Homo sapiens: one gene and its partners. The protein of the gene in region 2 purifies or fractionates together with the protein of the main gene of each other region. This does not show direct contact. Each region holds a gene or a part of one and is shown on either strand. Other genes may lie near its edges. The genes, in order: KL, MYO3B and CHLSN.

Region 1 (3,652 bases), on a different chromosome or scaffold from region 2:
GTAGTGCTTATCTCAGTGCTTGGCACAGAGGAAAGAAATACAATTTTTAATAAAGGCATAAGTGGAGAGGTAAAATACATATTTCTGGTTTCAACGTGTCCATATTCTTTCTTGTAAATGGAATATTGCGCTTGCAGTCTGCTCTCACACAATATCTGGGAAGGAGTTTTAAAGAGTGAGGAAGAACAGTAAAGATTTTCCTAGGCAGATACGTTATGTGACCTTTGTTGATTTCCAGAGCACATAATATCCCAATTTCATCCAGTGGACAGGAAAAGAGAGGAAGAGGGAAAAGGTGGCCTCTCAAGTGCCTGACCTGGAAGCTGCACCTATCACTGTCCCTTGGGCAGAACTCAGTCACATGGTCAAAAGGAGTCTGCAAATAATTGTCCCCTGAGGAGCCGGGTGCTCAGTGAATGATTCTATTAAGTTGAAATCAGATGGGAACAGATCATTTAGGATAACCAGCAGGCTCTACCACATTGCCTAACTCCCAGGCATATTGTGAGAATTAAAAGCACCTTATATATGTCAACGTGTTTTGAAAAAATACAAAAAGCTCTACAAAAGTGAGCTATAAATTTATCATTAATAATAATAGTAATAATAGCAAAATACTTGAGAAATGGTCCTCTTGAGCTGTTTAGAAGGAATCATACAAATGCATTAGACATGGTAGCCTCACTTAACTACTTAATTTGCCTCTTCTTTGAAATTATTTCAATAGCATTTGACCAAAAACTATCAAATCATTTTTGAAATAACGTATTTTTACATAAAACACATTATCAAATATCTTTCTGGATCCAGCTTGGTGGTAAAAAGATACATACTAAAGTTTATGACTGATATAACTTTATATATTGACTAAACCAAAGATAAATATTGATTGAACTTTTGTGGCCCCAGTTTCAATAGATTTTTTTATTAACATTTTTTGTTTGAAGTACAGATGTCACGTCATCCATGAACCGGTATCATTATAGCTTGATAAAATACTCAAACTGAAAGCAGTGATGTACATTAATTTTAAATATAATGGTTAAGCAAATGTTATTTCCATATCTATAAGTGCATTTTATTTGATAATTAGAATGTTAGAATCAGAAGGAATTTGGAAAATCCCAGGTTACACTTCTCTCCAGGACGAACTCCTTACAGTGGCTCTCCTGGGGTCAGCTAGCTTTTGCTTGACCCTTTGAAGCAGGAGGAACTCAGTTCCACTCAAGTTGCCCCCTTGATTTTCTCTTTCATATTGAACCTGCTGCTGCACAGGACTCCTCCGTGACTGTCTCTTTGCCTTCCTAAATCTCAAAGAATAAAGCAAGTCACTTTTTGACAAGACATCTTTCACATATTTGAAAAGACATCTTTCACATATTTGAAAAGACCAGTACGTTTTGTTCTTCCTAGAATTTTCTCCTTCATGCTAATGTCTGCTCCAAGAAGACATGGAGGTGACTGGACATTTAGTCAGGAACATTTCTTGAGAGCTTACCCTGTGGCAGGCAGGTGCAATGTTGAATTCTGAGAATATGAATGTAACCTTTGAACAGGTGGCTCTGTCTTCTGACGTTTCAGGATAAGGTGGAGGAGAGGAGAGGGGAAAGTCGACCTATCTCCCCAGCGGGGAGGGTTTAGGGTTGTCTGTGGGACCTGCCTCTGTCTCATCATCCATCACCATTGTCCTGCTGATGGGTGCAGAGGACTGAGGACGAGTGGTTGGAGTTCTCCCTGTGCCGGACCCTGTAGAGAGTCCAGAGCCCTGGCTCCCAAAGGAGGCATATTTGTAGGGCTCTTTTCGTGAGGGTCCAGAGGACGGCTGCAAAGCTGCAGGGGAGGATGGGGGCATGGGAGGCAAGCCCGTTGCCCTGTCAGAGCCTCTTGGGGATGCTGCTCTTCCCCGCCTGTCCTCTCTTCTCTTTGATTTCTCATCATGTGGTCCTCTTTCCTCTGCCTTTTCCTCTCTTCGGTGTCCCAAGTTCTTCCATAGAGACCTGTGTCCCCTTGTTCCCATCAGGCCTTTATGCCAGCCCTGCACAGGTGCGGGGACAGTGGTAGGGGCGTCTCACTCCCGACTCAACTACATTCTCCCAGAAATTGTCTGCAGTCAAACACAACTCAGCGTGGACATTGCTCACCAAAGGTATACTGCTTGGGCTGCACGAGAGATTCAGTTTTCTCCTATCTATCTGGCATGGGCTGTGAGGGGGCTCCTAACCTAGGGGGCCTTTTTACTCCTTCCTGGCCAGAGCTGCCATTTCCAAGTTTCTGCACTGTCAGAAAAGAGGGATAAGGTAAGATTCCTGCCCTCATGTCACAGATTAGTAGGGGAGAGGTAATTGTCAAATAATTACAGTAAAATGTATAAATGCCTTAAGAGAAATAAGTACTTGCTTAGGAACCTATTTCAAGAAAGGAGAGATAGGTTAGCGTTTTGGGGAGGTAGTACGGGAGCAGTCAGGGAAAGCAATACTTGTAAGATCAGAGGCTGGCAATCTTTTTCTGTAGAGGGCTAAGTTTTGGACTTTGCAGATCCTACAGTGTCTGTTGCAACTATTACACAGTTCTGTGGTTGCAGCATGAATGCAGCCATGGGCAATGTGTTAATGAATGGGCACAGCTGTGTTTCAATAAAACTTTATTTACAAAAATAGGTAGTGGGCCCTGCTGCTGGGCTTGGCTTGCTGGGCACACAAAGTGAGAAGGGCATTGTGCCTTTCTAGGAAACATCCCTTGCAAAGTCAGTACAGGTGAGACAGTGTGGCCATTCCCACCACAGCATGAGGTCTTTTGAATGGCTGAAGCGTCAGGTGGGAAAGGATGAGGAGCTGAAGAAGAAAGCCTGGGAATTTCCAAGGCCTCTCTTAACATTTGCTGTGCAGAACCAAGCAGTGCCCCAGGTGTTCAGAGTAGGCTTCAGCGATTACATTTCTTGTTAGACACTGAATTTTGTTCATGCCGCCCAAGATTGCATTAACAATTTTGGCTGTCACCTTACCGCGGACTCAAATTAGTTTGCAGTCAGCTAAAACCTCTCAGGTTTTTTCCCCCCAGCTTGTGAATTGCTGTGAAGCCAAACATCCCTGTCATCTCTTTGGTAGTTTATTTTCAAACTTTCAATCTTATTAAATTTCATCTCCAATGTGCAAAGATAAGAGGAAGTTTACCGCTGATGGTGGTTTATTCTTTAAAACTGGACATCAGCTAAATGTGTTAAGGTAATCCGTTAGAGGAATGTTGGTACGCTTATACAGTGGAATACTAATTGGTTATTAAAATGTTGATGTATGATTATTAAAAGGCAGCCCATGTTATGTCTCTTCTGTATGAATAAGTATGTAAAAAGTATGTAAAGATTACTGTATAGTTCATGGGTGGGACTGGGCTCTCTCTAGCCTCTGTCCTTCATTCTCCCTGCCAGTGCCTTTTCCCTTGCAGTGTCCCTTCCCTGGCTGCATACTCAAGACTGGATTTGCCCAGCCAAACCCCATTAACTCACAGAAGCAAGAGGAAAAAAATAAATTCTTATTAGTTCAATTCTCCAAATTGGGGGCGGTCTATTTCACAGCAATAGGTAACTGACGTAAAAGGAAAGGAAACAATGAAGTAATTCCAGAAAATTTCCTATAGCTGGAGGACATGCATTTTC
Region 2 (2,912 bases):
AGTGGCGCAATCTTGGCTTACTGCAACCTCTGCCTCCCAGGTTCAAGTGATTCTCCTGCCTCAGCCTCTCAAGCAGCTGGGACTACAGGCGCCCGCCACCACGCCCAGCTAATTTTTGTATTTTTAGTAGAGATGGGGTTTCACCATGTTGGCCAGGCTGGGTTCTGATAGTCTTGTCCAAATATAGATTTGTCCCAATTCAAGAAAAATCAAGATACAAAACTTTATACTTAGGGAACAAATATTTTGGTATTAATAATGGACCTTGCTAAGTCACTCTCTACTTTAAAAATTCCCCCAGAATTTTTTTAAATCGTGGAAATCTCTGGTGAAGTTAAAATATGATACCAAGTAAAATCTCCAACTCTTTTTAATGAATAGTTTATAATAAACACTCTGTCCTCCAGGATAGTGATAGCTTTTCTCTAAACAACAACATTCATGGACAATATTCTATGACAGAGGTGTGTGTGTCTGTGTGTGTGTTGCCAAGAAATTAGAACTGCTGAATCCTGATTCAGATATAGAGCCAAAAGGACAGTAGATCCAAAAAATCATTTGCTTGGAAGGGAAATGAATTATGACTTTTTTTTTTTTTTTTTTTTTTTTTTTTTGAGATGGAGTCTTGCCCTGTTGCCCAGGCTGGAGTGCAGTGGCACGATCTTGGCTCACTGCAACTTCCACCTCCCGGGTTCAAGCTATTCTCCTGTCTCAGCCTCCCGAGTAGCTGGGATCACAGGTGTGCACCTCCACACCCAGCTAATTTTTGTATTTTTAGTAGAGACGGGGTTTCACCATGTTGGCTAGGCTGGTCTCGAACTCCTGACCTCATGATCCACCCGCCTCAGCCTCCCACTGCGCCCAGCCATGAATTATGACTTCTTCTGACTCGTGGTTTCTTAATCTCCAGGGCACTCTTGGTCCAGGGTTCTGAAATCAGGACAAACAGGGAGAGACTGCTTCATGTAATCGTGCAATCATCCTTTCTCCTTCTCTTTTACACTACCTCCAAAGACTGCATGCATCAGTGGTATTGTTCAAAGCATTTCAGTAAATTTTAGCTCAAGCCATTTCCCCCCCGACAAAATGTATCCCACCAAAAGGTTTGCTTCTCACCTCCCCAAGAGTATGTGTGCTCCAGATGTTTTTGAACTCTCATTGCAGGATGTGGTGCAAACAATCCCAGATTACTTTGGTTGTCCTAACATAGTCATGCCACTAAGGGCACCCTACTCTATAAATGCTGACCACCAACTTATACTTCACCAATGTGGAAACAACAACTTGCTTTCTGTCACCCTGGACTGCTGATTCAGATCAGAAAGCTGAATGCAAAGTTACAGACAGTGGCCCTTGTTTACACTTAGCAATCTGTGTGTATTTTTTAGGATGGCATTTCTCCTAATATTAGTAAAGCTTTTAATATGCCCATTAAAATAGGACACAGTTTCTACTAAGTGCATTTATGTGAAGAGCCATTTTTCACTTAATTTTCCCAACACCTCGGACAGTTTACAGCAAAGTTTTGCTCTTTTTTCAGGTTCAGAAAATGGTCTTGCACAGAAGCATCGAACACCTCGCCGACGATGTCAGCAGCCCAAAATGCTGAGTAGCCCTGAGGACACCATGTACTATAACCAGTTAAATGTGAGTTCAAAGTGGCCGTAAAGCTGTTTCACTGGCTTTGTTTCCAGTTAATAATTCTGTTATTACTACCTGTTCCAGCCCCTGCAGCCCCACCCCCACCCTCATGCTCTCGTCTTGAACATGTGCTTAGGCTCTTTATCTGTTGCTTTCATGTCAGGATGTCTGCCTTCACGGTGAATAATTGATGTGGTTTATCAAAGACGAGCAAGATGCATGCTTCATCAGGCTCACTTGAGCCCTTTGATCAAAAAAAATTATGCTGTGACTTCTGATATTATCAGCATCTGCTTGCATTCAACACAAAATCACTTTGAATTAAAAATTAACGACTTGCTGCTTTGCTTTGACTGTGTGTTCTTGGCCCTCTCCACAGGGAACTCTAGAATATCAAGGGAGCAAGAGGAAGCCAAGAAAACTTGGGTAAATATCTGTCTTCTTAGTTCTAAGCAACTGTAAACAGAAGGGGTCCTTTGTGATATTACAGAAAATGCAAAACTTTCCAGAGAGGCTTCTAAAAATATGCAATCCAGATATTGCCACTCTTATTGACATTGGAAATTACTTTTCACAGTAGCAAGTATACAAAACTTGAATCTATTCTGTCCAAAAAGGTTGAAATTGTCACCTAAGGGCAAATGTTATTTCTCATAATTATTCCAGGGAATTGTACTTTCTTCATAATTAGAGACATGTAGTGGGTTATATAAAATTCTCCTTCCACAAATAAGAGCACTCTACGAAGTACAAATAGGCCACTTCCTCCACATTATCCTACCCCTGGGCCTTAAAAACATGGACAAGGAGAAACATGCCCAACTGGTTAGATAGAGGATAGTAAGGAATTTGTCGTTCATTTGATAGTTAGCATCTCAATTGAGAACAGCAATGAAGTACATAATGGTAATAATTAGAGAATTGGGGGAGGTCAGGAGGAAAACTTTCTCATCTAGAGGGAACCAGATGGAGACAGAGTTCAATCCCATAAAGCAAGTTGCAATACGACCACAACTTCCAGACACCACAAAACTGGACCCACTATCAGTGCACGACCCAAAGGTGAAGGGCTTTGTAGATCAGACCCTGGTACCTCTGTACTGGGAGACCCTGAGCTACCTAGGAGCTGTCCTTCCCCTCCAGTGTTGGAGCCCAACCCTGTTCCAGCTACTCACATGACTTTAGCTGCCCCAGTGATGATTGTAACATTTGTTTTATTTTTTGTTGAAAATCCTGTTGTTTTCTTTGTTGCAGCCAAATCAAAGTACTTG
Region 3 (3,652 bases), on a different chromosome or scaffold from region 2:
CATCTCTCCGAGGGCCTCCCACAGAGGTGCGGCTGGAGCCTGTCCTCCCAGGCAGGGCCAGTGCCCCCACAGGACACCCTGCCCCTCAGGGTGACTTCATCACAGGGACCCAGTTCTTGTCTCTGAGGAAGCCAGCCACGTGGACGCCGTGACACCCCTTATTCTAGGTGCAGTCAGCACTCAGGGAGACGGACAGGAACGGGCAGCAGCCTGTGCTGGTAAGCGCCGGGGAGGTGGCCACAGCCCGCAAGGCTGTGGAGCCCACGCCAAAGCCTCTGACCCCTGCAATCCTGCACCGTCCACCCAGCCACGCCGCAGGCACCATCCACCCAGCCACGCCGCAGGCAGCCAGGGAGATGGCACCCTGTGCCCAGCACCCCACAATCCCCGTCTTCCCGCTCTTGGGTGGCAGTGGCGCCTCCTGTCACTGTGAGTGAGGGCTGAAGGCCACCACGAGTTCCCTCCTCCTCACCCCCACGTCCAAGCAGCACCCAGGCCCGTGGATTCTTCCTGTGGTGACGTACACCTGGGGCAAGGTTCACCATCAGACCCATTTCTAAAAGCACAGTTCCAGGCAACCCCTGCACGGGCAGCGGCTCTGCTGCCGCCCCTGAAAGTTCCTGAAGGCTCTGGGCCATTCAGACAGAAAGGGCAGCGGCGGCAGCACAGGCCTGGCATGAACGCTCATACCTCACTGCTCTAGAACCTTCCACACAGTGTGTGCGAGTGAAGGCTTCGACCCCCTCAGGCAGGGGTTGAGACGCACGTCCGGGACAGAACCGCGTGGGGCAGGGCCGCTCACCTGCAGAGGTAGTCCAGGGCCAGTTCGGCCCCCGAGCGCCTGGCAGGCGGGTGCTGGGCCACAAGGCCTGCCTCCCGCAGACGCTGCCTCTCCTCTTTCTTCCGTTCCTTTTTCAGCTTCCTTTCCAGGACCCTCTGCTCCTCTGGGGACAGCTCTGGCTCTGCGTCCAGCCCGGGCCTGAGCACAGCTTCGCCCTGAAAGTCAAGGAACACATTAGGCTTCGGGGATGGAGGGTATCCAGAGACGGGTGCGCTGCCTGGGGCTTCCCGAGCCCACCCTCACCTCAGTAGTGGCCAAAAGCTCTGTCCCCAAGCACTGGGTCTGGCCCCAGCCGACACCATCCTGCTAAGCCTGTGCTACGACGAAGAGACAGACAGGTCACATGAGGATGGCCAGTCCTGCGGGCAGGCGCCAGGTGCCAGGATTAACTGCCCAGAGGCCCCTTCCCCACCCCCGTGGTCCACCTCCCACAGACTCCCGGCTCCCGAGGCTCTGTGAGGTCCTGCCCCACCCCACACAGTGTGGGAAGATCCGGGCCGGCCCCCAGGGAGGGCTGAAGGTGTGCTGGTGTCTGTTATCACACAGGCCAGGTGCTGGCCCCAGACCCGACCCAAATCCCGAGGACGGTGCCTGGGGCCTGCTGCTTTCTGGCAGGTCACTGGCTGCCTGGCTCCCCCTGGGCTGCAGGCTGGGGACAGGGAGGGGGCCAAGACCCCCAAGGGAGGGAGAGGGCCCGCTGTGACAATGTGTCCCCAGCCACATCTTGCCAGGAAAGCACAGGCCCTCCGTCTTGCCCACCCTCCCCTCATTAACAAAAGAAGAGGACGGTGCAAAGCGTCAAAGCCGGGGCAGCCGGGCCACGGGGTGACCATGAGGTGACCCCAGCCGCTGTCCACATGCTTCGTCTTTTTTGGAAAAGTCAGAACATCAGTGTAGACTCCGAGCAAGGCCAGGAGCCCAGGGAAACAGCTAGGGGCGTGGGAATCAACCAGGCAGCGCCCACCGGGAGCTTCCAGGAAGGGAGGCCGGGCACAGCCCACGCCTACGCATCCCACCCCAGGGAGAGCAAAGAAGAGTGAGGCAAGCCCCCCTACATACAGATATATATGCAACCCACCCCCCCGACACAGACACACACATTCACAGACTTCACCCCTACAGCCAAACACAGCCCCCAACCCTCACCCATGTACCCACACCGACCCACACCCACCCACACCCACCATACACCCACACTCACCCACCCACACCCACAGACACGGACACATACCCACACCCACAGACACCCACATACCCACCCACCCATACCCAACACACCCACACCCAGATACCCACACATAGACCAACACCCACACGCCCAGACACCCCCACATGCCACACACCCACATACAACCACACACACCGACACCCACACACATCCAACAAATCCACAGACACCCAGACACCCACAGATACCCAAACACCCACAGACACCCAGAAACACCCACACACCCAAACACGCCCACAGACACCCAGACACACCCACACCCAGACACACCTTCACACGCCCAGACACCCTGACACACCCACACCCAGACACCTGCAGACACCCACAAACACCCAGATACCCAAACACACCCAAACACATCCACACACCATCCCAACATACCCACAGCCACACACGCCCACACCCAGATACACACCCAGACACCCACAAACACCCAGATACCCAAACACACCCAGAGACACCCACAGATGCCCACACACCCAGACACCCACAGATACCCACACACGCCCACAGACACCCACAAACACCATACACACACGCCAACACACCCACAGCCACACCCCTAGAGCCTGCCAGGGGTCCGCAGCAAGAGACAGGGCCTGGGGGACGAGGAGCACCGTCCCTGGCAGATGCCTGGCACAGAGAGGCTGAAGAGTCCCGGTGGGAAGGCCTGGGCCGCCCACACACACAGGCAGGAAGCTCTGAGACCCACCAGGCCAGGCACGCAGGGCTCTGGGGAGCAAGATTTTCATGGTGGGGATGTGGACACCCCCAGGGGAGCCTGGTGACTGACCGGCTCCAACCAGCTCCATGCTCACCTCCTAGGCCCACAGCCGCCCACAGCCGCCAACGGGGCAGGCACAACAACTGGCCCTGAAAGGTAAAAACCCTCCTGGCACAGGCCCAGCCTCGGCCCCCACTCCATGGGCCACGCAGTCCACGGCTGATCACACGGGCCAAAGTCCATAACACTGTTAGGGCTGCACAGGGGCCGCCGCGGTGGCCGAGGGTCTGTCAGCCCACATGCGTGGGGCACCCGGACAGGCCCTGAGCAGGTGGGCAGGGCCCTGTGGTAGGGTCCCAGGTTGGTGGCCAGAGTGGTGAGGACGGGGCCAAGGCTGTGGGCAACAGCAACGTGGGCGCTGGCCTGGGGTGGATGGCGAGGGGAACCCAGGCCGTCCCATATCGGGGCCAAGCCGGGGACCCGCAGGCCCAGCTGTTTCCCGCAGGCTTCCTGAGCGCCCGGTGCAGGGCTGCTTCTTGTGTCAGGCACCAGCCTGGATGCTGCGGAAACAGCTTCCTTCACACCCACTCTTGCTTCTGGCCACCAGCGCTCCCGACCTGGCAGGAGTCACAGCCCAATTCCCGTGTCCCCGAGGGAGCCACTGTGGCCACGAGGTGGGAAGCTCAGGAGTGCCACCCACTGCCCTGGGCTGTGCCTGACACTGGCCGGTGCACCTTTAACTTTTCCAAACTCCTGCTTTCTGTGCTGGGCCTCAACAGAAGACGCAGGGGCAGCTGGAGTGAGGGTGCTGCGCCCGGAGAGCCAGGGGCCTTGGGGGTGCCCGGCTCCACTCTGCGCC

What was found.
Region 1: the proteins of MYO3B (region 2) and KL purify together in Homo sapiens (affinity purification with mass spectrometry; one large-scale study listed by BioGRID and IntAct). This does not show direct contact.
Region 3: the proteins of MYO3B (region 2) and CHLSN purify together in Homo sapiens (affinity purification with mass spectrometry; one large-scale study listed by BioGRID and IntAct). This does not show direct contact.

Annotation. Positions count from the first base shown.
Region 1 is NC_000013.11:33,022,772-33,026,423, forward strand, and holds part of KL (klotho precursor), read left to right. Parts: intron 1-3,652. UniProt on the Homo sapiens protein: May have weak glycosidase activity towards glucuronylated steroids. However, it lacks essential active site Glu residues at positions 239 and 872, suggesting it may be inactive as a glycosidase in vivo.
Region 2 is NC_000002.12:170,650,088-170,652,999, forward strand, and holds part of MYO3B (myosin-IIIb), read left to right. Parts: intron 1-1,540; coding exon 1,541-1,647; intron 1,648-2,020; coding exon 2,021-2,067; intron 2,068-2,895; coding exon 2,896-2,912.
Region 3 is NC_000007.14:1,009,148-1,012,799, forward strand, and holds part of CHLSN (protein cholesin), read right to left. Parts: intron 1,154-3,652; exon of another isoform or gene 1,085-1,153; intron 997-1,084; coding exon 803-996; intron 1-802. UniProt on the Homo sapiens protein: Hormone secreted from the intestine in response to cholesterol, where it acts to inhibit cholesterol synthesis in the liver and VLDL secretion,leading to a reduction in circulating cholesterol levels. Acts through binding to its receptor, GPR146.